Homo sapiens: one gene and its partners. The protein of the gene in region 1 purifies or fractionates together with the protein of each later gene. This does not show direct contact. Each region holds a gene or a part of one and is shown in the gene's direction. Other genes may lie near its edges. The genes, in order: MYH13, PLEKHG1, MKNK1, NIN, DMAC2L, LYST and GARRE1.

Evidence for each region.
Region 2: the proteins of MYH13 (region 1) and PLEKHG1 purify together in Homo sapiens (affinity purification with mass spectrometry; one large-scale study listed by BioGRID and IntAct). This does not show direct contact.
Region 3: the proteins of MYH13 (region 1) and MKNK1 purify together in Homo sapiens (affinity purification with mass spectrometry; one large-scale study listed by BioGRID and IntAct). This does not show direct contact.
Region 4: the proteins of MYH13 (region 1) and NIN purify together in Homo sapiens (affinity purification with mass spectrometry; one large-scale study listed by BioGRID and IntAct). This does not show direct contact.
Region 5: the proteins of MYH13 (region 1) and DMAC2L purify together in Homo sapiens (affinity purification with mass spectrometry; one large-scale study listed by BioGRID and IntAct). This does not show direct contact.
Region 6: the proteins of MYH13 (region 1) and LYST purify together in Homo sapiens (affinity purification with mass spectrometry; one large-scale study listed by BioGRID and IntAct). This does not show direct contact.
Region 7: the proteins of MYH13 (region 1) and GARRE1 purify together in Homo sapiens (affinity purification with mass spectrometry; one large-scale study listed by BioGRID and IntAct). This does not show direct contact.

What each region holds. Positions count from the first base shown.
Region 1 is NC_000017.11:10,370,207-10,374,133, reverse strand, and holds the start of MYH13 (myosin-13), read left to right. Parts: upstream 1-1,127; 5' UTR 1,128-1,155; intron 1,156-2,874; 5' UTR 2,875-2,925; intron 2,926-3,927. UniProt on the Homo sapiens protein: Fast twitching myosin mediating the high-velocity and low-tension contractions of specific striated muscles.
Region 2 is NC_000006.12:150,833,885-150,837,384, forward strand, and holds part of PLEKHG1 (pleckstrin homology domain-containing family G member 1), read left to right. Parts: intron 1-3,500.
Region 3 is NC_000001.11:46,594,269-46,597,768, reverse strand, and holds part of MKNK1 (MAP kinase-interacting serine/threonine-protein kinase 1), read left to right. Parts: intron 1-3,488; 5' UTR 3,489-3,500. UniProt on the Homo sapiens protein: May play a role in the response to environmental stress and cytokines. Appears to regulate translation by phosphorylating EIF4E, thus increasing the affinity of this protein for the 7-methylguanosine-containing mRNA cap.
Region 4 is NC_000014.9:50,761,663-50,765,162, reverse strand, and holds part of NIN (ninein), read left to right. Parts: intron 1-1,198; coding exon 1,199-1,337; intron 1,338-3,251; coding exon 3,252-3,373; intron 3,374-3,500. UniProt on the Homo sapiens protein: Centrosomal protein required in the positioning and anchorage of the microtubule minus-end in epithelial cells. May also act as a centrosome maturation factor.
Region 5 is NC_000014.9:50,318,824-50,322,323, forward strand, and holds part of DMAC2L (ATP synthase subunit s, mitochondrial isoform a precursor), read left to right. Parts: intron 1-1,739; exon of another isoform or gene 1,740-2,553; intron 2,554-2,659; coding exon of another isoform or gene 2,660-2,664; coding exon 2,665-2,771; intron 2,772-3,500. UniProt on the Homo sapiens protein: Involved in regulation of mitochondrial membrane ATP synthase. Necessary for H(+) conduction of ATP synthase. Facilitates energy-driven catalysis of ATP synthesis by blocking a proton leak through an alternative proton exit pathway.
Region 6 is NC_000001.11:235,660,907-235,664,406, reverse strand, and holds the end of LYST (lysosomal-trafficking regulator), read left to right. Parts: intron 1-351; coding exon 352-423; intron 424-1,328; coding exon 1,329-1,467; 3' UTR 1,468-3,366; downstream 3,367-3,500. UniProt on the Homo sapiens protein: Adapter protein that regulates and/or fission of intracellular vesicles such as lysosomes. Might regulate trafficking of effectors involved in exocytosis.
Region 7 is NC_000019.10:34,253,077-34,257,353, forward strand, and holds the start of GARRE1 (granule associated Rac and RHOG effector protein 1), read left to right. Parts: upstream 1-1,477; 5' UTR 1,478-1,538; intron 1,539-4,277. UniProt on the Homo sapiens protein: Acts as an effector of RAC1.

The sequences.
Region 1 (3,927 bases):
CCTGATCTTAATTTTGTAATCTCTTTCCCAATCAATAATACAAAATCAGGCTAGTAAAGACAAACTTACCACAGAAAGAAATTATACCTGAGAGGCTGGCCATGAAGGCAAAGACAGAAAATCTAAAAAGTAAGGCCAAGTGTGGTGGCTCACACTTGTAATCCCAGCATTTTGGGAGGCCGAGGCGGGAGGATCACTTGAGGTCAGGAGTTCGAAACCACCCTGGCCAACATGGTGAAACCCTGTCTCTACTAAAAATATAAAAATTAGCTGGGCGATTATAGCACATGCCTATATATAACACATGGGATTATAGCACATGCCTATAATCCCAACTACTTGGGAGGCTGAGACAAGAGAATTGCTTGAACCTGGGAAATGGAGTTTGCAGCGAACCAAGATCACGCCACTGCACTCCAGCCTAGAGGAGAGAGCAAGACTCTGTTTCGATAATAATAATAATAATAAATAAAAGTATACACCAAAATTCACAGCAGGAACAATTAGTGCAGGCATGATCCACTAAGAACCAGATCCTTGATGACTTTATTATATCATCTCCCAGACCCCCAGAGTGATCAAGAAAAACTTAAATTCTATTCAAGATAGTAGGTTACACAGAGCAGGATAATGTAAAATACATTTTGGAAAGCTTTTCTTCCAGTAGATTTTTAAACAAACAAATACATAAATAAGACTGGATGTGTTAAAAGGTCAACCTTAAATTTCCAGAGATTTCTGAGATGAGAAGCACACCATCCCATACCAATGCTGGGTAAATGAGGTGTAGTTACTGTCCACACTACTGATCACCCATTGCTTGACAAAGCATCCTGTGGTTCTGCCCTTCAGTGACCTTCTTAGCACACTCTGCTCCAGTTCCACTCAGCCCCTAGGACTCTCTAAGTCTCAAAGATCTGTGTCCAACGTCAAAATCCCTATGCAGCTGACTTGGCATTATGCAGCCTCCACTGGTCATTTATCCAAGTAACTTAACAAGAGTGAGAGATCAGGGCTACGACGCATTTACATCTAACAAGTAAATGGTGCTCCCCCAAATATAGCCAAGTTAGAGTGCTGGGCTGGCAGATTTGGGAGTATAAAGAGAGCTGGGGGGTCACACTCCTGAAATTGCTGTGACCGCAGCATCTCTAGGTAAGTGCTCACAAGTGCTCACTTTTTTGCTCCACGTAGCTATAGTTGCACCTGATCAGGTTACCAGTCAAGGGGGGAAGACAATAAAGTAGCCTTTACGGAGGGCCTACTAAGTGCAAGGTCTTGTGTTGAGGGCAAGGTTGGAGACAAGATGGAAAGACAAGACAACTGCCTTTCAAGAAACTTTTACAAGGGGTGAAAAGACAAGAATATAAGCAATTATAAGACAAAAAATATTCACCTGCAGAACAAAACTGAGTATAATGCATGATTCCTCCTCTGATTATTTAGGTCAATGTTATACTGTTCAGTTAGCAAATTAACTTGGTAACTTGTGGTATCTCTTCTGTGATTGCTTAAGCTATTATTTGAAATTTTTATGTTTATTTAATTTGTTTCCCATGTCAGGATTTCTGAAAAATGGTTGTGGGAGGAAATAATCCCAAGCATCTTACCCATCTTACAAAGTGTCATAGTCTGATATGAATTGACTGGTTTGCAGACTGTTCTCACATGGCATATTTTATGGACTTGGGACTGGACTGTGTCTGACAGTGCAATAGCATCCCTCAGAGATTTGTGATACTTTGAATTCAGGCCACCATCTCTACGGAGAACTGTCTGTTATAGACTCATAGGGCTGAAAGGAATCTTGGAGATTTTCTGGTGCATCTGATTCATTTTACGGAAGGAAACAGAAACCCAAAGAAATCATACCAGCTACTTAACAGAACTGATATTAGAATTTCTGTAGCTCTGCCTCCATATTTTTTTAAATTGAGGATTCAGAATATAGTATGTAATACTTTAATTTTTTAAGAAATTGTGAGAATTTTAGGATATAACTGGAGATTATTTAAGATGCATTAAAGACGGAGAAGGAAGGAGGCAACAAGGATAGTAAACCAAATCCTAAGTGTCTGTTCCTGCCTAAATAGGGCTTCATGAAATATTCCCCTGGCTCCATAAAAGCACTGAATGGTAATTGGGAAGTTTGCTTAGATTACATTTGATATTGAAAATTTTTCAGACACTCATGCCTCCTTGAGATAGCCACGTAGTTTATAAACTCCTAGAGCTGAGATTCCTTAGTCCCAGGTGACTTTTCAGCTGCCCTACCTTCATCATCTGCAGGAGGAATTTAGAGCATTGAAGAGAATAAAGAAGTCTTTGTCCACAATTTATAACTTTTCTCCTATTGCCAAAAAAAGGTGACTGCCCCTAAGCATCCAAGCTGCAATCTGGAGCATTCCCCTCCCTACTTTCTTTCTTCCCTGACCCCTCACAGCCCCCCAGTCAGAAGCGGTTTCTCTAAGTTCCCATAGTACTTTGTTTAGACTCCTTAAAAATTTGTCTTAATCCTGTTCAAAGACTTACTTGAGCATTCTCTTATCCCTTACTAACTTTTGCATTCCTATAGGGCAGATACTGTACTTTCCTCTTCATACCCCCTTAAGGAGCTGACACAGTACATTGTACACACAGAAGTTTCTCAAGAGAGTATTAATTAAATGTTGTAATTAACCAACTATTTAAAGAATAATGATTTTAATCAAAAGTAAAAATTCAAAACAGCAAATTTATTTCATTCCACACCATCTACTGTGTATCTATTTAAGGTAGATAAACTGGAACAAACATGGTTTCTATATTTATTTAAACTCTTTGTAGCTCATTTGGGTTTTTTTGGTTTGTTTTTTTTTCTCAAATTATCCCCAGGAAGACGCTTTATTCCTGAAGGACACTGACTGTCACTTGGGAACCAAGAAGGTAAGGGTTATTTTCAGCTTGATCATGAATGCAATCATTGAAATTAGCAAACATCATTTTACACGTTCTCATTCTTGCCACACTCATAAGAAGACGAAATTGATGAGTTTGAAACCAATAACTTAACTATTCTTAAAGGTAGATTTTAAAATATATACAGGTTTTACCAAAGGAAGAATGGCTTCTCCTATTTGCTCATTACACTGAAATGTACGAAATATAATGCAGAATTTTGACATACAAGCTCCAAGTCAATACACAGTACTTAGTTGGCACAGAACATGATGTTCATAGGGTCCAAATGCAGTCTTCACACAAAGGCTAACTTTGCTGCTCCTTGAGCAGAGTCTGCACCCATGAATCCACACAGCTGCACCTTCCCTCACGTGTAATACTGAAGGAATGGGGAGGGATCCGTTCAATCCTATGCCCGGTGCGGTAATAAAAACCCTATCCCCTTAAAACGTGTGTTTATTAGAGGTAGTTCTAGATGAATTGGGACCAAAAAAGCCAAGCTGTCATTGAATCATGAGCACATCATTGCTGACAAGACACAGTAGCGGTGAAATTCCCAGGAGAGGGATGAAAGTTGAGAGTAGTGTCATGGTACACAGAGGGTAAACAGAGAGAGAGGAGCCCTCACAAGTGGGTGATGGAGATTAGGCAGGCGGGGGTAGTCATCTCAATTAGAAGGCCCTTAAAGACAGGAACAGAGTGGTTGAAGGGGCACAGCTATGCAACGTTGGAAGCAGGTCCTGCTCTTGGAACAGAGAAGAGGCTAATTAAGGAAACTCTAGAGGGTGGTGCTCAGTGGGCAGCATGAGTCATGCCTAGAGACTTGGGTCAGATCTAACAAGGTGAAGTTTATCAGTCAAAAATGAATGGTCTTCCCCTGGGTCCCAACTCACAGTTGCACAAATATAGGGAGAAGATCTGACTTAGCAACTGCATGCACGGAGAGGATTGAGGGGCTTTGCTCGACACGGAGTGGTGCGTCAGCAG
Region 2 (3,500 bases), on another chromosome or scaffold:
GATGCCACTAACTATTAAATGCTGTCTTTGGGATTGACATTGACATCCATGGAAACTGAAGAATAGGAAGGGCATATCCAAATCTTAAATGAATGCACAAGTTACATAACAAGAATCTGTAGGGAACTTTTTTTTTTAAGTTTGAGAGTATTTAAGAATTGTCTAAAGTTTTAATCTTCAGTACAATTTCTTAACAGATAGGGAAACAAAGTGCTGGAATTGATGCCTGAAGGATTTCACAGACTCTGAGTTCTTCTTTTTAATCAAATGAAGGTTTTGTATGCATGTGAGACTAGAATGCATGTATTTTTCTCCTTGCCATGATGCACTATGAGTAATTCAAGTCCCTATTCTGATGCTAGCGTTGCTAAGCTGGTTTGCTGTTACAGGGAAAGTGACTGAGTTCCCGCTGCAGGAGGACAATTTTGGTGGGGTAGGGGAATATATATGGCCTTAGAAACAGTTGTATATTGGCAATTGCAAGCACTGACTAAGTCTGGGTTGGGGCTCCTCAGCATAAGAGGAAATGTAATGCTGAAGTTTTTGATGATGATGGGTTATGCCCACAGACTACCACTGAAAAAGTAGTAATTCCCTGGGCCAGGTTGTTTTGAATATGGACCATCTGTTAAAATACAAAGCTCCAATCTTGACAGAAGCATGTCCTTTGATACTGAATCATTAGGGCCTACGACTACCTCGAGTAGTCTTCTTTTTTACCCACCTTTTTAAGTATTAAATGATTTCACATTGGGGTTTTCTTTTCACTTTTGGTTGGCTCTCCTTTTTGTTTTGCCTGCTGGTGTTGTCTTGGGATGCCCCAGGATCTTTTCTCAGCTTTGCGTCTGGGTCCTTTCTTGACATGGTGGGCTCCTGTCGACGTTCTCCCCAGCAAGGAGGAGGAAATCTCTCCCGAGTCATCTTCTGAGAGTGCTGTCTTCCCTGCCATCTGGCAGAGGCACGTCCCTAGGACCTGATGAGTTATATCCACACCTCGTCCAGCTGGGTGATCGAGACCACTTCCTGTGCCCACTAGGCTTTCCGTCAGTTGACATGATGACTCCTTTTCTCTTTCTTGTTTATCTGGGCACAGGACGTCGTAATCGAATGGACCGATTCTCCAGACTTCTCCGTGTGGGCCTTGCCGCTTTGCCAGGAGCTTGCTCTCGGTGCTGTGCGGAAGGAGGAGCACCTTATTCACCTGCCGAAACTCTCGAGCATCTTTATTGAACTCTCTAGCCGGGGTCTCCAGGCCCTGGGTCAGATTTCTGCCTATAAATCACCCAACCAGGTCCAGTTGCTCCCATATCTTAGAGCCTGTCATAGCATGCTGGCCATCTTGTTCCATCAGACCTTCCTCCTGATAGTCTTTGAGAGCAAGGAGGCCTTTGGGTTTCTGGGTTTTTTGGTGATGTTTCACATGGGAGAAAACTCCATACAGGCTTGAGAAATTTTCCTCCTTGTGTAGAGTAGGGAAGGCACAATTTTATGCTTTTGTCTGCATCTCGAGCAACATCAGAAACATTTATTTTAATCCTCTGTCTGGAGGATTAAAATGTTGTTTGATATTTCCCTTGGCAAACATTATTCTAAATTTTTGTCTGAGATCATAAGAACTCCAATTTTCAAATCTCAAAAAAGGCAATAAACCAGAGACATTCTTGCGATTGTCATGTAGTCATAATGTATATATTCTATACAACTGTTAATACTAGAACTAAGGATATGGGGGAGCCTCAACTCAGCTGACTAATACTAAGCTTTTTAGGCCAGAGGTGTCATCTCAGGCTGGCTGTTCCCTGTACATCTGGCTAATAGAATCTGTTTAATTACAGCTGGAGCTCTGGAAGCTTGTCTCTTGTTCACATAGATGTCACACAAGCTATAGACTCTCTTAGAAGGTCAAGCTGAAACAAAAAGCCCCTTAGATCAGCAGGTGCAGTGACTCACACCTGTATGGCCAGGCACAGTGACTCACACCTCTATTGCCTACTAGTGAGATACCTTTTATTCAAAATTGATAAATGGTCAACTCTATCATCCAAAGATAAACTGTTCCCATTATGAGTTATCTATAGGAAGCATTTTAGCTGTCTTCTTGCTTCTGCTTTTTCTGCTTATGACCTGATTTCCAGGCCACCTTTCCACTCCCAGTGGTATGGTCTCAGGAAAGTGCATCCCTTTTTAAAAGTAGGCTTAAAATGAAAGGAGTCTGGGTGCAGTGGCTCACATCTATAATCCCAGCACTTTGGGAGGCTGAGGCGGGCAGATCACTTGAGGTCAGGAGTTCAAGACCAGCCTGGTCAACATGGTGAAATCTCGTCTCTACTAAAAATACAAAGAATTAGCCAAGCGTGGTGGCGGGCACCTGTAATCCCAGCTACTCTGGAGGCTGAGGCAGCAGAATCGCTTGAACCTGGGAAGTGGAAGTTGCAGAGAGCCGAGATTGCGCCACTGCATTCCAGCCTGGGCAACAGAGTGAGACTCCATCTCAAAAAGATTAAAAAATAAGTAAAATAAAGAAGGGAGTGAAAAAAATTCTGAGTAATGAATTAGTTATTGAGACCACTTTCTGTCTAAACCATGCTAGGTCCTCTATAGGGAGTTGAACAAAATGTACAGCATTGTTCTCCCAGACCAAAAGCTCAGAGGCCAGGCGAGGTGGCTCACACGTGTAATCCTAGCACTTTGAGAGGCCAAAGCAGGAAGATTGCTTGAGCTCAGGAGTTTGTGACCAGCCTGGGCAACATAGCAAGACTTTCTCTCTACAAAAAATTTAAAAGTTAAAAATTTCCAGGCACAGTGGCTCATGCCTATAGTCCCAGGTACTCAGGAGGCTGAGGCAAGAGGATTATTTGAGCCCAGGAGTCTGAGGCTGCAGTGAGTTATGATTGTACCATTCCACTCTAGCCTGGCCAACAGAATAAGACCCTGTCTCAAAAAAAAAAAAAAGAAAAGAAAAGCTCAGGGACTAATAAAGTAACTTACATAAAATGGCCAGGTGCAGTGACTCACACCTGTAATCCCAGCACTTAGGGAGGCTAAGGCTGGTGGATCACTTGAGATCAGGAGTTCGAGACCAGCTTGGCTAACATGGCAAAACCCTGTCTCTACTATAAATACAAAAATTAGCCAGGCGTGGTGGTGGGTGCCTGTAGTCCCAGCTACTAGGAAGGCTGAGGCAGGAGAATCACTTGAACCCAGGAGGTAGATGTTGCAGTGAGCCAAGATCCTGCCACTGCACTCCAGCCTGGGCAACAGAGTGAGACTTTGTCTCAAAAAAACATAAAATGAAAATAAAGTAACCTACATAAAATAATTAGCAACACAGCAATACAAATTGTGTGTGTCTGCATGTGTGTGTGTGTGCACACACAGGCAACAGCTAGGTACACACTATGTAAGACTTCAGAGAAGAGAAATCAGAAAAGGATTCAAGTAAGGAGAAGATAGGGCTTATGGAGAATCTTGAGAGATGAGTAGGATTTGATTAAGCAAAG
Region 3 (3,500 bases), on another chromosome or scaffold:
TGGTTGCCCCATACCAGAGCCTCTGCTAGGTGTAGGGGTCCCAGAGATGAAGGAGACATAGTCTCTACCCTGTCCCTGGCTAACAGTCTAGGGGAAGATGCGTAATAAAATGTTACAGGTAATTTAATTATGCACAAGTGTAGGAAGCTGGGAATTGGTTAGAGCAATCAGGTGGAAATACAGTCCCTTTTGACGAGACTGCAGGTTAAGACTCCCATAGAGGGTTGGTCTGGGACAAGTTGATGGAGGCCGTGAGTGACAGCACAGAAGCTTGGTTACTCCAGAGGCAGTGGACACCCATTAGAAGTTTTAGAGCAAGGAAGTAACAGGTCGAGATCTGGCTTTTTGGACCAAGGGTAGAGATGCCATAAACCTTAGCCTTACCTGTGCCTCACTGATGTTTTCTGTCTTGAAAGTAATGTGATGGATCTTTTGTTTGTATACATGGTGATTTTTTTTTTTTTTTTTGCTCTAAAACGTCTGTAGAAGGTCTAGTTCTTAAGCACTGAAGAAATTTAATTCCCAGTACAGCAAGAAATTCATGAACAATTGAGAGAGAATTGGGTGCCTCGCCAGGCCCAGCCTACTTAAGACCCAGCTGCAGGCCGATGGATCTGTGTAGGTTTGGTCTGGCCATGGTCACCCTTCCCCACCCCAGCCCTATACCAGCAGGAGGTACAGGAATGAGGAGAGGGCTCCAGGGTCCATCTGGGTAGTTGGTAAAGAATGCTAAGAATCTTTAAGAACTGTGAGAGTCAGAAGTAATTTTTGAGGAGGAAAAAGGGACCAGAGGAATTTTAAATGGTGCCAGAAGGAATTAGGGCTAACCAGGCACTTAGAATCCTGTGACATGTATCTGAAAACCTCCACATTCTCTCTCTGCCTTTGTATTTGCTGTCAGTTTATTCCCTCCTGCGGCCAACTGTGGTTCACAGATTGGCTGGGTTGCTTTCCAGAGCTGCAGTTGATCTGGAGAAGCCATGTCAGAAGCTGGAATAAGAGTTACTATTGAGTGCCTACTGTATGCCAGATACTGGTGCCACGAGCTCTATATACATTAGCTCACTTAATTGCCATGACAACTCTGTGATCTAGGTGTTATTGCCCCATTTTATAGATGATGGTAGTAAAGCTCAGAGAGTTTGAATTTTATGTCCAAGGCTACCCGGCTGGTAGATGGTAGGGCCAGAACTGGAACCTAGGACCTAATGCCCAAAAGCCCTGTGCTTTCTACTTCCCCAGCCTAAGGTGGCTCCACGTGGCAAAATAACACAAAGCCCATAAGGAATTCTGAGGGGTTTTTTTTCTACTGTAGGCCAAGGGTTGGCAAAGTATGGCCCACAGGCCATATTTGACTCACTGCCTGTTTTAGTGTGGATGCAAACTAATGTACTTTTTACATTTTTATGTGGTTGGGGAGAAATCAAGAAAAGATCAATATTTTATGACACATGAAAATCTATGAAATTTAAATTTCAGTGTCCAAAAATAAAGTTTTATTGACATATAGCTACAATCATTGATTTACATATTGTCTACTGCTTTCTCTCTACAAATGCAAAATTGAGTCATAACAAAGATCATGTGACACACAAAGCTTAAAATATTTACCATCTGGCACTTTACAGAAAAAAAATTGCCAACTCCTACCATAGGTAACAAGAAGGGACCAGGTGGGGGTCTAAACCTATGACAAGACTAAAGACAGAATGGAAGCTCAAGGCCAGGCGTGGTGGCTCACGCCCATAATCCCAGCACTTTGGGAGGCTGAGACAGGCAAATCACGTGAGCTCAGGAGCTCAATACCAGCCTGGGCAACATGGTGAGACCCTGTGTCTACAAAAAATACAAAAATTAGGCGTGGTGGCTCGTGCCTGTAGTTTCAGCTACTTGGGAGGCTGAGGTGGGAGGATCACTTGAGCCTGGCAGGTGGAGGCTGCAGTGAGCCAAGATCATGCCACTGCACTCCAGCCTGGCTAATGGAGCCAGATCCTGTCGTTGGATGGTGTTCAAGGCTGTCCCTGGAAGTGTGGTAGTAGAAGTGAAGAAAGAGAGCATACCCTGAGTTTCCTTAGGCCCTGGAAACAGTTTTACTGGGTTTCAGATTTGTTTGGGAATAAAGAGCATAGTAGGAAGGACTGTCCAATGTGCTAACATCTTTATTGGATGTTAAAGAGATATTTCGTGTATTAAGTAATTCATTCAGATTCACTAGAGCCCATTTTTGCCAGATACTATGTTAGATGCTGGTAATGCAAAGATGAAAAAGGTAAGTGCTTGCCTTTGAGGAATAACTGGCAGGATGACGTGATCTGATAGGGAAGAAGAGAAGTCAGAGGAAGGAGGCAGTGGGTGGGGGTTGGGCACAAGTCCCACTTGGGGCATGTGGTTTGAGGTCATGGTGAAACACACCCAACTTCCAGTTAGAAAGCCTTTTTAGAAATTTTGGCTCAGAATTCAGAGTTAAACTGCATTTTCAGGGCTTTTCCACCGAGAAAAGGGGAAATGCATATTTATTTCATAGGGAAGTTGACAAAGCAACTTTGACTTGTATAGCTAGAGCCATGGTATTAAAATAACAGTGAACATAGAGAAAATGAAGTCATCAGATTGAAAACTAGCAATAATTATGTATTCGACACAAAACCTTGTTCCCATTCATGCCACCTCCTGCTCTCAGCATCTACTTTATCTTTCGGGCTCTGTTTCCTCTTGCCTGTGAGACTTGGACTTGGCCACTAAGAGAGAGAGCCCAGCTCATTTCTCTAAAAACGTGGATAGCAGAGGAGTGCCTCGCTCTGTCACCCAGGTTGGAGTGCAGTGGCATGATCTTGGGTCATTGCAGCCTCGACCTCCTGGGCTCAAGCAATCCTCCCACCTCAGCCTCCCAAGCAGCTACAGGTGTGTGCCACCATGCCTGGCTAATTTTAGTATTTTTGTAGGGATGGGTTTCACCATGTTGCCCAGGCTGGTCTTGAACTTCTGAGCTCAGTCAATCCACCTGCCTCAGCCTCCCAAAGTGCTGAGATTACAGGCATGAGCCACCACACCTGGCCTGTCAACTTTTATCTTTTGCCTGAGACTCCTCAGAGCAGAGGTGTCTTATCTCTATCATCCAGGTCCAGTTACATCTTTTTGGGTCTGGAATCCCATAATGGAAACAGAATCTGAAAAATTTCACTCAGACCTTTGTTAAATCTTCCAGTGCTTAATGGCAGTGGGGATAGAGAGGAATTAGAAGCCACCCCTTCCCAAATAATCATTGCTAATAATTTGGCCAGCCTGGGCAACATAACAAGACTCTATCTCTACAAAAAATTTAATTCAAATGTCTGATTTTAAAGATGGGAAACCTGTGATTGCTGCGTGTATATCTACTTAGTGGGGTAACTCATAGGTTTGGGGCACGTTCAGATTGATCTTTCTCTTTTCTGGTCCTTTTAAAGAAGTCAGCATTTTGATTTCCTTTCTATTTCTGCTTTTTCAAGGTTTCCATGTCA
Region 4 (3,500 bases), on another chromosome or scaffold:
TGGGTTCAAGCAGTTCTCCTGCCTCAGCCTCCCGAGTAGCTGGGATTGCAGGTGTCTGCCAAACGCCTAATTTTTTTTTTTTTTTTTTTTTTTTTTTTTAAGTAGAGACAGGGTTTCACCATGTTGGCCAGGCTGGTCTTGAACTCCTGACCTCAGGTGATCTGCCCACCCAGCCTCATCCACTTGTTTTCTTAACAGCTTTATACACTATATGTTTTACCCATTGAAGGTATAAATTCAGTCTTTTATTGTATTGACAGAATTGTGCAAACATCACCGCATTCAATTTTAGAACATTTTCATCACCCCAGGAAGAAACCCCTTCTCCACTTAGCCATAATCTCTCCCAAGCCCCCTAGCTCTAGGCAATTATTAGTGTACTTTGTGTCTCTACAGATTTGCATATTCTATACATTTCATATAAATGGAATCTTACAATATTAGCCCTTGAGACCGGCTTCCTTCATTTAACATAATGTTTTTAAAGTTCATCCATGTTGTAGCGTGTATCAGTTCTTCATTTCTTGAATAATATTCCATTGCGTAGATATACCACATTTTGTTTATTAATTCACCGGTTAAGGGACATTTGGGGGATTTTGGCTATTATGAGTAACGCAGCTATGAAAATTTGTGCGCACGTTTTTGTATGGGCATATATCTAGGAGTAGAATTGCTAGGTTGTATGGTAACCCTATGTTTAACCGTTTTAGGAACTGCTAAACTTCTTGCAAAGTGGTTGCACTGTTTTATATTCCCACTAGTATGATAGTTCCAATTGCTCCACTTCTTCACCAACAGTCGTTATTGTATGTCTTTTTGATTCTAGCCACCCTAGTAAGTGTGAAATGGTATCTTATTGTGGCTTTGATTTGTATTTCCCTGATAGGTAATGATATTGAATATCTTTTACATGTATGTATTAGTCATCTGTATATCATCATTAGAGAAATATCAATTCAGATCATTTGCCCATTTTTAAAATTGTCTTATTATTGAGCTATAATAGTCTTTATATATTCTAGTTACAAGTCCCTTATCAGATACTTAATTTGCAAAACATTTCTACTTTCTTGATAGTGTCCTTTGAAGCACAAAAGATTTTGTTTTGATGATATCCAATTTATCTTTTTTGTTGTTGTTGTTGCTTATGCTTTTGGTGTCACATCTAAGACCAGTGTTGGTTTTTAAATCCCAGGTACTACAAGACCAAGTAGATGAACTCCAGTCTGAGCTGGAAGAATATCGTGCACAAGGCAGAGTGCTCAGGCTTCCGTTGAAGAACTCACCGTCAGAAGAAGTTGAGGCTAACAGCGGTGGCATTGAGCCCGAACACGGTAAACACATTCGGACAGGCTGTAGATAAAGCCTTTACTCTTGTTTTTAGAAACGTGGTTCAATATAAAATTGCAAAGCTTTGGCAACTTGAAAAAAGAAAAAAAAAAAAAAGAATTTGGCCATACTCTTTTCTTGAGCTGTTTCACTTGTGGTCTCGTTTTTCATTTGTCCTTGAAGTTTTTATGAGAACATTTCCATCTGATTTTGATATGCGTCAACAAAGGAATGGAAGAATCAAACCACAAGGGTATTTGCTTTGTTAACAAAACAAACAAAAAACTGGCTGCAAATCTGGGAATCCAGGCCTTGGGAGTGTTAGAATTCAGACACTGAGCTATTGCTGTCCTCTTCGAAGAGAGTGTGTAACTCATATGAAGATGGTTTTGGAGAGCAGGCCAGCCAGATACTACAGAATCCATAGCTGGTTTTCTTATACGGGCTGTGCTGAATGTCTGTATTGCCTCAGCAGAACAAAGAAGATAAATAAGGGCTGGCCTCCTGGCCTTTGAGGAAGATTTTGAGTGGCAAGTTTGGAAGGCAGAGTTTGGGAGCCTCCTGCATTAACTATGAGCTCCTTTCCTCTCTCCTGATAGCCTACCTCTTTTCTCGGGGGTGTTGAGTTTAAATTTCAGAGACAGCTCATAATCAGTTATTCTGTTATAAATAACTTTCCCCAGTGCTATTGGGGATAGGAGTGTCGTTCTTACACAGGTTGTTTATTCCTCCTCTTACTGCAGAATAATTAACAGATTGGGGAAGGAGGAGACAAAGAGGCCTTAAGACCTCCCCTCTGATTCTTAGCTCATTCCAGTCTGAGGATCTCATAATATGATATATCTCGGCAGCTGTTATGGACTTTTCCATAGATGGCCAAGTGTTGGGGTTGTTCCTCATGAGGACAAGAAGCTGTACCATCGTGGTGTGGCTCACACCCTGGGTGTTACTTCTCATTTGGGAATATGCCATCAAATATGAAGAGAAGACCCAAAGCAAGACTGCCAGTTGCAGCTGCTAGACATATACCCAAGAAAAGTTCCTTTCTTCCATCTGCCTGTGTATCCCCACATGCAAAGCTATTTTGGGTCCCACTGCCTTAAGAGATTAGTCATAATCTTTTCTTCTGTGTACAAGCTCAGCCCCCAACTTATGCTTCACATTTTCAGTGTCATTCTCAGTCATCGTCGTGGGCAGTTGCAGAGATGAGCTCATGCATGAGTTAAGAATTTCTACCCACAACTGCCTGTATCCTGGTTCCTAACCTATGCCCTGTTTTTTAAAATTTTAGCTGATAATATGCTAAAATTATGCTGATAATAGCTAAAATATGATAATTTTAGCCAATAATAGCTGATAAGATAAAATGGGGATCTACCCACACTCTAGGAAATTCATAGGAAATAGGCAGTCTTCTGTAATGCTGAGTGATGGGTTGTTGATAGTGTGACCCATGAAGCTAACTCCTCAGGGCATCGCAGCAAGTATGCTGGCCGTTCATTTTCCTGCCACATCGTCATTCAGTATTTGTTGGATGGGTAGGAGTCTGGTTGGTTTGACCAAACTACCTCATGCTATTACCTCAATTTGCAGCATTTGCATTAGGAGGTAGCTACCTATAAGCAACAATTTCCACCCCCGCCGCCCCACCACCTACTATTCTAAGAGATGGATTCTATTAAGGTTTTTTCCACTGCCTGTACATGAAAGAATCTGTTCACCTTCATTTCTTCTTGTTTGCCCTAACGCTTGAAAAGAGAAAAGACTTCTCTTGGCCTCTGTTATTTCCTATTAGTTCACATCTCTGGTAATTCAGGCTGAAAATCATTCCTTAGTTAAACTGGATGTCCCTCCTCAGATGCCACACTGTGTTATTGAAAGAACCTGCTGCAGGATCAATGAGTCCCATGTGTTTTCAGGGCTCGGTTCTGAAGAATGCAATCCATTGAATATGAGCATTGAGGCAGAGCTGGTCATTGAACAGATGAAAGAACAACATCACAGGGACATATGTTGCCTCAGACTGGAGCTCGAAGATAAAGTAAGTCCTTCCCACCAATCCACTTCTCTAATTTCTTTTGGCTCTGACAGGCTTATGTGTGTAGGGCATTTCCAATTCTTTTTTCTCATAGAGCAGCACATTCTATGTTGGGAACCCACATCCTCAG
Region 5 (3,500 bases), on another chromosome or scaffold:
CTATTATCCAACCACGTTGGGTGTTATTTATCTCTTTATATGTTATCTCTCTTTATTAAATTATATGTTCTATGAGGTCAGGAACCTTGTCTTTCTGTGTGTCTCTTTCTCCTTTGTTCTTGTTTTTGTTTGTTTTGTCTTACCATTGTTGCCTTTGCACTAAGTATAGCAGACATTCAATAAACATTTTTTGAGCGAATGAATGAATGGACATGGCATTTGAGTAAGGTCTTGAGGTTGGGTGGGATTTCCACAGATTGATGGTGATGGGGGAGGGAGGCTAAGAGAAAACAGCCTGAGTAGAAGCTGGGAAAGCCCATATTTGTAAATAAGATTGACAACTAATAGAGTTATTCAAGGTGGGCACAGGCAGAGAGCGCTTTAACAAAAAGTTGGAAAGGGTTGAGAACATGATAAGAGGTAGTGGAGCAGAGGCTTGCAGTAATGAAGACGGCTGTAGTGAAAAAGGGATGAAAGGGTAGTTGGTTCTGTCTTCAGTTCACATCTCTCACTGTTCCACGGCCTCAGCATCCTCAATCACTTCCTCAGCTTTAAGGTGTTTCCCTCTCAGGCATCTTTCTAGTCCTCTTCTTTCTCTTGAATTCCAGAACCATGTAATGATTGAGGAAAGGACCCTGGGCTGGTAGAGAACTGGGTTCAGGTTTCAACACTGCCACCAATTAGTCATGAAACATTGAGCAAGTCCCTTTAAACACATGCATTTATTAATACCCCACCTTGTTTCAGAAAGGATTTAGGATGTCAGGAAGTTACTTAATATCAGGGCTTCAGTTTCCTCACCTCTAAATGAGAGATTTCATCCAGGTGATCTAAATTCCTTACAGCTCTAATGTTTTGTGACCTCTGATTCCAATGATTTGTTGGTCATCTGCACTTAGAAATCCTGCTAACACTTAGTATGTAGATTATGAAAAACTAAAAGAAAAAAATCTGAACCTATAACCCTGTTCTCCTAATGTGATTTCTTTTAATGGCATCACCATCCTACTACCAGTGACCCAGGGCCAAAACTTGGTGTCATTTTCAACTCCTCTAGCCCTTGCCCCTACATCTCACTTAACTGAGTCATATGGAACTAACTATGTAATGTCATTCCCATCCTTCCCCAACTAGGCCCTTTCGTATGGCCTCATGTGATTGAAGCCCTTGCTGACTGGCTGTCCCATTCTGTTGACCCTTAATCTTGATGCTGCTGAGTCAATTTCTTGAAGCACAACCGTAACAATGCCAATGCTTTGTTCTATTTTATTTATTTATTTATTTTTGAGATGGAGTCTCACTCTGTTGTCCACGCTGGAGTGCAGTCTGGTACAATCTCAGCTTACTGCAATCTCTGCCTCCCGGGTTCAAGCGATTCTCCTGCCTCAGCCTCCCGAGTAGCTGGGACTACAGGCGCATGCCACCATGCCTGGCTAATTTTTTATTTTTTTATTTTTTGGTATTTTTAGTAGAGACAGAGTTTCACCGTGTTAGCCAGGATCGTCTCGATATCCTGACCTCGTGATCTGCCTGCCTCGGCCTCCCAAAGGGCCAGTGCTTTGTTCAGAAACCTCGGTGACTCCCTGCTACATACAGAATACAGTCCAAATTCCCTGGCTGAGCATGCAAAACACTTCACGACCTGACTGTGCAAGTTGCCTGCCTCTTCTCATGACTCACATGTGCTAGTGAAACTGAAAATAACATGCCTTAAATGTTCCTGCTTCAGCTAATAATCTGGCATAATTTTTCCTGGCACCTTTGTTTGTTGAAATCCTTTCTGTCCTTATTTTAACTCTTTTGAGGCATTTATCAAGTTCTGTCACTTATTTTAACTACTTGATAACGTGTCTTAGCCCACTCCATCCTGCATTAAATTGTCAGATGCTCAAAGCAAACACCATGTTTCATTTATCTTTGTCTCCCCATCTCCTCCTCCCTGCCACATCCAGTCCCCTGCACACACCTAGCATACTACTAGGGAAACTTGAATTGAGGTCAATCAAATCGAAACCTACTCCAGGAATCACTTTCTCAAATTATGGTTATACATTTTGACAGCTGGAAATTAAGCAAATCATCTCATTTTACAAATGAGAAAACCAGAGGTCAGAGAGGTGAAGTTACTTGCCCAGTCTTTCCCAGCTGCCCTTAAAACAGTTTTTTTGTTTACACTGCTCTGGTAACACCACTTGCAGCCTTGTCATAGGTAGATCTATTTTCATGTCTCCTCTTCTTTCCTGGATGCAAGCATCTTAACCTTGACACGTTGCTCTTTCGGTGATTTTAGTCTGTCATTTTGATGCTGGAAATATAGATGGGGAATAGAGGAGCCAGCTTCAGCAAATTCATAGCTACAGCGCCTGAATGGACACTAGATGGCAGTACGACAGGCAGACTCCAATTGAGGTTTCAACAGTGGAACTTAACGTTCTAGCCGGAAGGAGCCTTAGACACCATCCAGTCCAACCCCTCATTTTTTTGCAGCAAACAAATAAAAAACCCCAAGAACAAGAAACAGGAGTGACTTGCTCAGTAATTGTTGAGTGGCAAGTGAGTCATCAGCTTTATCAGTACAAGAGCATTGACTCTGAAGTAAGTTGCTATATGTATGGGACTCGGATGATGATCTAATGTAAGTACTGTTTTGTGTGTCTAGATCAAATGATGCCGTTTGGAAAAATTTCCCAGCAGTTGTGTGGCGTAAAGAAACTCCCATGGTCATGTGACTCCAGATACTTCTGGGGCTGGTTGAATGCAGTGTTTAATAAGTAAGTTACTCTAAATAAAGTGAAGAAATGTGGAGATGGTTACAGCTAAATAAGTTCCCAATAGCTTGTTTGGCTATTTCTCATATTTACAGTTTGTGCAGTGTGATCCTAATTTTGTTTACAAACAAACAAAACCCACACAAACATGGAAAAAACACCAGAAAAACAGATTACAAAATATTAATTGTGGCTGTTTGGGTTGCAGGATTTCGATGATTTTTCTTACTTGTCCTTTTGATATATTTCAAGTTTTCTAAAACATTTTATAATCAGAAAAACTTATTAAATATAATTTTAAAGTATTTTATTTTTATGGCTTTTTAAAGGAATGTAGTTAACCTTTTGAATTCTATCAAAGTAACTTGGGTTTTCAAAAAATTAGTGGGTGGCACACTTAGAAATGTCATTTTGAAACTTGAAACTAACCTTCTAATTACTTAATACAGCATTATGATCACTAGCTAGAGAAAAAAGCATATGTAGAAATTAATAAATATCACTTAATGAGATTAATTTGACCACAGATTCAGAATTATTTTCTCTTTAATCTTTTGTTATTAATACAAATTCTAACCAAGTATAGTCATTCGTAGAATAGTTACTAAGTATCTCTGGTGTCAAGCACTGTACTATATGTGAATCAATGAAACGTTGTGTCTGATAAATTCATATAAAAATAATACGCCTTGACAGCGTTCACGTGGAAACAAAAACAAAACTAAAAAAGTC
Region 6 (3,500 bases), on another chromosome or scaffold:
GAAATTAATTTTTAATATCTAGGCATATTAATATTCAGTATTTAGAGATTTAAACTCACCTTGGGGTGTAGGTTCTTTAGTTATTCCTGTTTTATTTCTAAATAATAAAGATAGCTTTAGCACAGTTTTGAAGTTTTATGTTAACTATAAAAGATTAACAGTATGGAAGTATACAAAGTTAAAAGTTCTCTTATTCCCACATCTACCCCCTGCAAACTCCCTAGAGGGAACTACTGTTAATTGTTTGTTACATTTCCTTCCACATGATTTTTAACAAATAAACAAATATAGAGGGCTTTTTAGGGAGAGTAATTTTAGTTTGCATAATTAGATGATTTTTTTCCCCTCTAGGTTATGGAGCACATGGGACTTAAAGCCTGTGAGAGAAATTACATTTCCCAAATCAAATAAGCCCATCATCAGGTAAGATCTTCTCCCCCTCTTATGCTTCAGAATACAATTTGTGATTGTATTTTTCGTAGAGAGGTATTTAAGCACACAGACTTAAAGAAATGTGCAATTGAAGTCATCATGAAAAGCCAACCACTTAACACACAGCGGGTTGTCCGTGACCCAGCAGCAAGAGAGACCACACTCCTTGTCTTCATGGAGCTTAAAATCCGAGTCAGTGACTCAGAGTCTAGTGGAAAGGCATGCTTGTAGTGTGTCTCTGGAATCATAGAGACTGTATTTTTTCCTTTCATATTTGACAAGACCATAATGGTGATTGATAGCTGCAGGGGTGCTTGACAAAATAGATAAATAATCAGTTACTCTTTGCTTAGTTAACAAATTTGACTTTAAATAATTAGAAATAAAGTGATTCAAATTTTACTTTATTAAATTAAATGTATTTTCAGTGTACTAAATTTAAAGTTTAAGGAACCTAAATTAATTACTAATGTTACATTTTTTTCCTTTTCTCTTTTAGGGAAATAATATATAGCCATAAAATACTTATTTATCTTTATAAGGAGAAAATATAGTACTGTTATATTTTTAAAAGTTTTGTACACCCAAATATTTGTTGTTTATGTAATAAAGCATAAACAAGGAGGCAAAAGAAGATATGCAAAGAATAGAATGTACTGAGCTTTGTGATCCTGATTTTATTCTATATCACCGCATTTATGAGCATCTCAACTTGTCAGCAGAGTGACTATGTTAGAATTACAGTCAAAACCAATGAGTTGTAGGCAGTCATTTAGTTTATGTCTCTCTGCGCCACTGAAGATAACTTCTTTACACTAACCTCAGTATGATGACCAATATGCTAATACACTTTTAAGAAATATAATGTACAAATGGGAATTTTTTTTTTTTTACAGCCTTACATTTTCTTGTGATGGCCACCATTTGTACACAGCAAACAGTGATGGGACCGTGATTGCCTGGTGTCGGAAGGACCAGCAGCGCTTGAAACAGCCAATGTTCTATTCCTTCCTTAGCAGCTATGCAGCCGGGTGAATGCGAATGAACTTCACGTTCTCCAAAGCACTTTAACTCCAAACTAGATTTGTTGACTTCACCAGTTTTAGGAGGTTGAACCTAAAGAAATGGATGACTGGACAAACCATCCAAATAATGATAAAGTCTATTCATCTGCACAAAATTCTGAAGAGTCACATGATCCTAAGAGGAAAGTTCTGTTCTATTTTAGTGATAATCTGGAAGATTGTGTCAATATGCACTAGCCAACAAGTTTTAAGCCTCGCATGGTACATTAAAATGATATTCTTAAAATTTTTTCCCACCAAGGTATTCCAAAGAAAATATTAAGGTCTCCCCTTTTTCTATGATTCCAAAAGGACCAGTAGAATTTAAATTGGTTGGTTGATTGTTTATATAAAACACACTAAAATTATATTTTAAAAGTTTACTGCCATGAAATACTCCTCCCACCACACACACATGCTCCAAAAGAGGAAAGAAAAAAAGATAATTTTTAGGACTTGATAATTGCTTTCTTTGAGAAGCAAATTATTCAGTAGGTGCCTCTGTACCAAATATTTTATGGAATATCTAAATACTAAAATAAACTATGAATGAATCTCAAAATTAGGCAGTTTTTGCCAGTTGCTTTCTTAGCTCAAAGGAGAACCAGAATTTTTTTGACAGCCACAAACAAGAATACAGGTATCTTGGATTTCAGACACATTCTGTTTCTTCATAAAAATTTTACTTAAAATCTGTAACGCTAGATATTGACTATCCTTAGTTGAGTCACTGAGGTTTAAACACAATGGTAAGTCTTAAAGTCTGCTATTTACAGAGCATTGAATCTGTACCAATTTGCAATAGAAAGCCTTCAGTATGCAAGAAGTTTGCATGGGTATTAAGAACACAGCCTAAATAAGGCATTTGATCTAATCTGCAGGAAGAATTTTCTTCCCCAAAACAGAATTATAAAAGCTTACTTTAAACAGGAGGCAGAATAATTCTTTTAGGAAACCATTTCATTCTGTTTCTACTAACCTATACCATCTGAGAATTCTAGGAAGAATAATAAAATCTCGTGTATTCCACAGCAAACTTACATACCATAAAGACAGAATTCCTAAACATCTTGGAGCCGTCTGTCTCTCCCATATGATGGCTGTCTGTATATTTTTACTTGGGGTGCTGCTTTATTGGCTTTGAAAACACTGTCAGATAAGCTCAGTAATATGTTACCATGGGATAAAAATATGTATCCCTGCCTAAGAATAACTTGTGCATTTGTTATGGAAATTTAATTCATATGGTGTTTACAGTACTACTTTTGTAACTTCCAGACTTTCTAAAACATTCTGCTTAAAAACCATATAAAATATAATTCCAAAGTCTCTGCTGTCAAGATAGATTCGAGAGAAAGCACGTGGCCATGTATGCTTTAACCTTAAACTGCATACACATGTAGTGATACCTAGGCTGCATTTAGATCACCGTGTGCTCAGGCCAGGTGTGAATCCTGAGGTCCATGGAGGTGCAGAGATGAGATTACTCCTATTCACGTTGAAGTGATTTGCTTTGTTAACAAAAAATTGCAGCTATTGTCTAGCTTTCATTTTTTTACTGAGAACTTTAAATTAGTCCCCTATTAGAATAGGGTTGCTACTCATCTTTTTTTAAAAACCGAATTTCATCATTTATCTAAAGAGAAAATATGCAGAATAACTGGTCTTGTTAAGAGTGCAATATTATATTTTTATGTAAAAATAAAAATTAATTTGGGGGGATTATTTATTCAGCATGAAACCTAATATGTATATGTTTGAAATACTTCATAATGTGCATGTTGTAGCAAACATTTCTGTAAATTATCACAAGCTCTGTTACCTTTATATACACTGCCTCTTCAATTTGGAAATAAATTTCATAAAAATAGATGTAAACACCTCTTCTTTAAGCTATTTAAATATTATGAGCAGATCTCAAATCGATGGCTTTCTGTGTAACCCACATAGGTTCTGTCTTTAGCTCCACTATGCATTTATATCACTAGAAAAAGATAACTTTCT
Region 7 (4,277 bases), on another chromosome or scaffold:
TACTCTAGGTACCTTATGTAAGTGGAATCATAGGATATTTGTCTTTGTGACTGGTTTCTTTTGGCATAATATCTTCAAAGCTCATCTATTTGCATCGTAGCTGGGATTATAGGCATGCGCCACCACGCCTGGCTGATTTTGTATTTTTAGTAGAGACGGGGTTTCATCATGTTGGTCAGGCTGGTCTCGAACTCCTGACCTCAGGTGATCCACGCGCCTTGGCCTCCCAAAGTGCTGGGATTACAGGCGTAAGCCACGGCGCCCGGCCTCCTTCAACGCTGAGTAATATTCTATTGTTATGTTTATACCACATTTTGTGAACCCATTCACCCGTGGATGGACATTGGGTTGCTTCCACCTTCTGACTAATATGAACATGGGTGTACACATTTATATCCACTCTTGCCTCCCCTCCGTAGTCCTTCCTTCTCCACACTGCATCTAGAGTAACCCCTTTACACTCTCAAGTATGGACAAATCACCTCTTGCTTAAAACTCATTAGTTTTGCAACACTGTCAAGTAAGACCTAACTTCTCACCACTCTGATTTATTATTGGAACACAAAACTGGGCCATGCTCCGTGGCTCAAGCACTTTGGGAGGCCGAGGTGGGCGGAACACCTGAGGTCAGGAGTTTGAGACCAGCGTGGCCAACATGGGGAAATCCCGTCTCTACTAATAACACAAAAATTAGCCGGGCGTGGTGGCGCACGCTTGTAATCGCAGCTATCCGGGAGGCTGAGGCAGGAGAATCACTTGAACCCGGGAGGTGGAGGTTGCAGCGAGCCAAGATCACGTCACTGCACTCCAGCCTGGGCGATAGAGCAAGACTCCGTCTCAAACAAACAAAACCCACAGAACTGGAAGACCCTTGCTGCTGCTTCTGCGTAATGTGTTCTCCTCCCTTCTCGTTTTTTTTTTTTTTTTTCTCCCTTCTACCCCTTAGGACCTCAGCTCCTGCTCTTTCCCTGGGGGAATTCCGGATCACTCTCCTTTACTAGGTCAGGGTACTCTCTCCCTCCCTCTTACTCTTTCCCCTCCTACCACTTGTCACCATTGGTACTATATTATCACCCGGATATGTGACAATGGTATTGTGTATTTACCACTAAGGAATAAACTTATGAGGGAGAGAGCACTACCCGTTCCTGCAGTGCCCGTCGGGGCCTGGCATCTAGGAAACACTCCATACGCCAGTAATCGATTTCAGTCAATTTCAGTAATAAATCCAGGAGGACGCAGCCCGACCCCTCCCGCCCGGGGGCCAAGCCATGGTGGGGGATCTGGGTGGACCTCCGGCTCTGGCCGCCAGTCCTCAACCTCCGCCCCGGCCGTCCCGCTTGGGGGCCCAGGGTCCCAGGAGAGGAGGCTCCGGGGCGCCCCCTCCCCTCTAATGCGAGAGGAGAGTCCGCTCTAGGCGCGGGATCCGCAACCTCCCCGCGTCCGCCCGAGGCGGGGGCGGGGCCGGACCGGAGACGTAACTTCCGGTGTACACAGCCGGTCCAAGGCGGTGCGCTGGGGGCCGGGGCGCGTCGCAGGTGAGGAGCGGGCGCGGCGGGCGCAGGCGGGGGCTGGCGGGCGGGGTCGGGCGGTGGGCGGTGGGCAGCGGGGCCGCGGGCCGCAGCCAGGGCAGACGGCGAGACGGGCCCGCGGGGCGCCGCTCCGCTCGGGGCCGCAGGGCGCGGGGCCGTGGGCTCCCGCCCCTTGCCCGCCCGCTGTGGAGGACGCCGGGCTTTGCGGGCGCTGGCCGGCCGACGGAAGCCCGGAGGGGCCTCCTGGCGCGAACCCGGGACCTGGGGGCGCGTCGGAGACTCGGCGGCCGCGGCACCGCAGGGGCGGGTCGGCGCCCGTCAGGCGGGGAAAGGGGACGCTCCCTCGGTTCGCCGGGGCCCGGGAGGTCGCGCTGGCGCCAGGACCCGCTCCCGGAAGCCCGCGGAGGGAGGGCGGCCTGCTGGCGGCAGGGGTCCGCTGGGGCTAGCCGGGGAGGCGGCCCTCACGCCATCCCGGGGCTGCCGGGCGGGCTGCGCGCACCTTCCCGGCGGCGCCAGGCTGCCGAGGAACGCGCTTTTCCGGCCCTGCGGAGCCAGCTGGCGCATTGGGCCCGAGGGGAGGGTCCGCGGGGACCGGGAGGGCCGGGGCTGAGCGTGGAGGACCCGAGCCCGAGGGACGAGCGCAGAGTCAGGGGTGTGTCTTTCTGCGCCGCGCGGTGCGAGGAAAGAAGCGTGCCTGGTTGGCATGATAAGAATTTTGTTTAGACTTTTTAGAAATTTTCCAGAGACTCAGCTTTGGGGGCCTCCAGTTTGAAAATACCTTGTTCTGGTCCCTCATCCCCATTATAAAAGCAGTTAATTCTCCTTTCCTGGCAAAACACTCAAGACGACACAAAAAGTCTTAAGGTAGAAAATGACAGTCATCTGCCAGTCTACCATTCAGTGACAACCACTGCTAACATTTTGGTGATAATCAATAAATACAGATAGGTATTGTTATTTTTATGGACTTTACAGTATGTGATTTAACCACCGATGAGCATTGAGATAGTTTCCAATTTGTCACAAGATAAACAATTCTGCCGGAAGGATTTGTTTGATATGGTCTTTTTTTTTTTTTTTTAATAAGAGACTGTTGCCCAGGCTGGTCTCAAAACTTCTGGCCTCAAGCGACCCTCACGCCTTCGCCTTCCAAAGTGTTGGGATTACAAGTGTGAGATATTACACCTGGTCTGATTGTTATCTTAGAATAAATTTACAAATGGGGTCAAAGGTAACTTTATTTGTTTTTTTTTGAGACAGTCTCCCTCTGTCACCCAGGCTGGAGTGCAGTGGCGGGATCTAGATTAACTGCAACCTTAGCCTCCCGGGTTCGAGCGATTCTCCTGCTTTAGTCTCCCGAGTAGCTGAGATTACAGGCACCCACCACGCCCGGCTAATTTTTGTATTTTTAGTAGAGACAGGGTTTCGCCCAGTTGACCAGGTTGGTCTCGAACTCCTGACCTCAGGTGATCCGCCTGGCTCGGCGTTCCAAAGTGCTGGGATTATAGGCGTGAGCCACCGTGTCCGGCCGTAACGTTCAATTTTTAAGAATACATAGTATTTGTTTTCCTTTGACATATTTGGACAATTTTTCTGTCTCTTTGTCATAAAAAAAAATTCCAGCCTGGCGCGATGGCTCATGCCTGTAATCCCAGCACTTTGGGAGGCCGAGGCGGGCGGATCACTTGAGGTCAGGAGTTCTAGACCAGCCTGGCCAACGTGGTGAAACCCGGATTCAACTAAAAAAATACAAAAAAACACATTAGCCAAGCATGGTGGCGCGCTCCTGTAGTCCCAGCTACTTGGGAGGCTGAGGCAGGAGAATCGCTTGAGCCCAGGAGGCGAAGGTTGCAGTGAGCCGAGGTCGTGCCACTGCGCTCCAGCCTGGGCAACAGAGTGAGACTCCATCTCAAAAAAAAAAAAAAAGAAATTCATGTTTGCGTCTCATCGTTTCATGGTTTTATTTTTTTGCCTTTAGTCTACCTAAAATTCATTCTTGGTTTAAAATATGAAATATTTTGTAAATGGCTAGTCAGTTCCAGATTTATTGAATAATATGTAAGCTTTATCATTTTATCATATTTTAGACTAAAAGTTCTAAGTGTATGTTTGTAAGGGCTACTTACAAAGTTCATATTTACATTTTGTGTGTGCTTAGATGTTTTCAAGTGTCTTTAAAAATCACAGTATTTTCTTTTCACAGTATCTTCACAATATTTTGTTTTAAAAAGAAATCATTTTCCAATACAAGTACAGGGAATATTTCATGTTTGAGATTTTTTTTTTCTTTTTAAAGCAAAAAGTTTAGTTTATTGCCGTTTCATTTGCTTTCTTGCTGACAAGATAACAAACTCCATATGAAGAGTTCAGGTTTGTTGTGGCAACTTTTCAGTGTGGCATTTGAGATTCTAATCTTCCTCTATTTTTGCACACAAATACGTAGGTTGGCATTGGAGACCAAGATAGAAAAGTTCTCAGATTCCCTTGGCAAGCCTAGATTTTTCAATCTAAAATTATCTCCAGATGTTTGGAAGACCATGTTTTAAGCATCCTTTTTTTTTTTTTTAAGCAAATTGCACATGATTCTGTGAAAATTTTAGTAAATGTTTGTTCTGTTGAAAACCTATAGCCTAATACATCAGGATCCATGTGTCAAGTGGGTCTTCCAAGTCTATAGGAAATAATTGTTTCTGAAAGCTAGCAGGCTGGGATATCACATGGGTTGGGTGTCCACTCTCTTTTTTT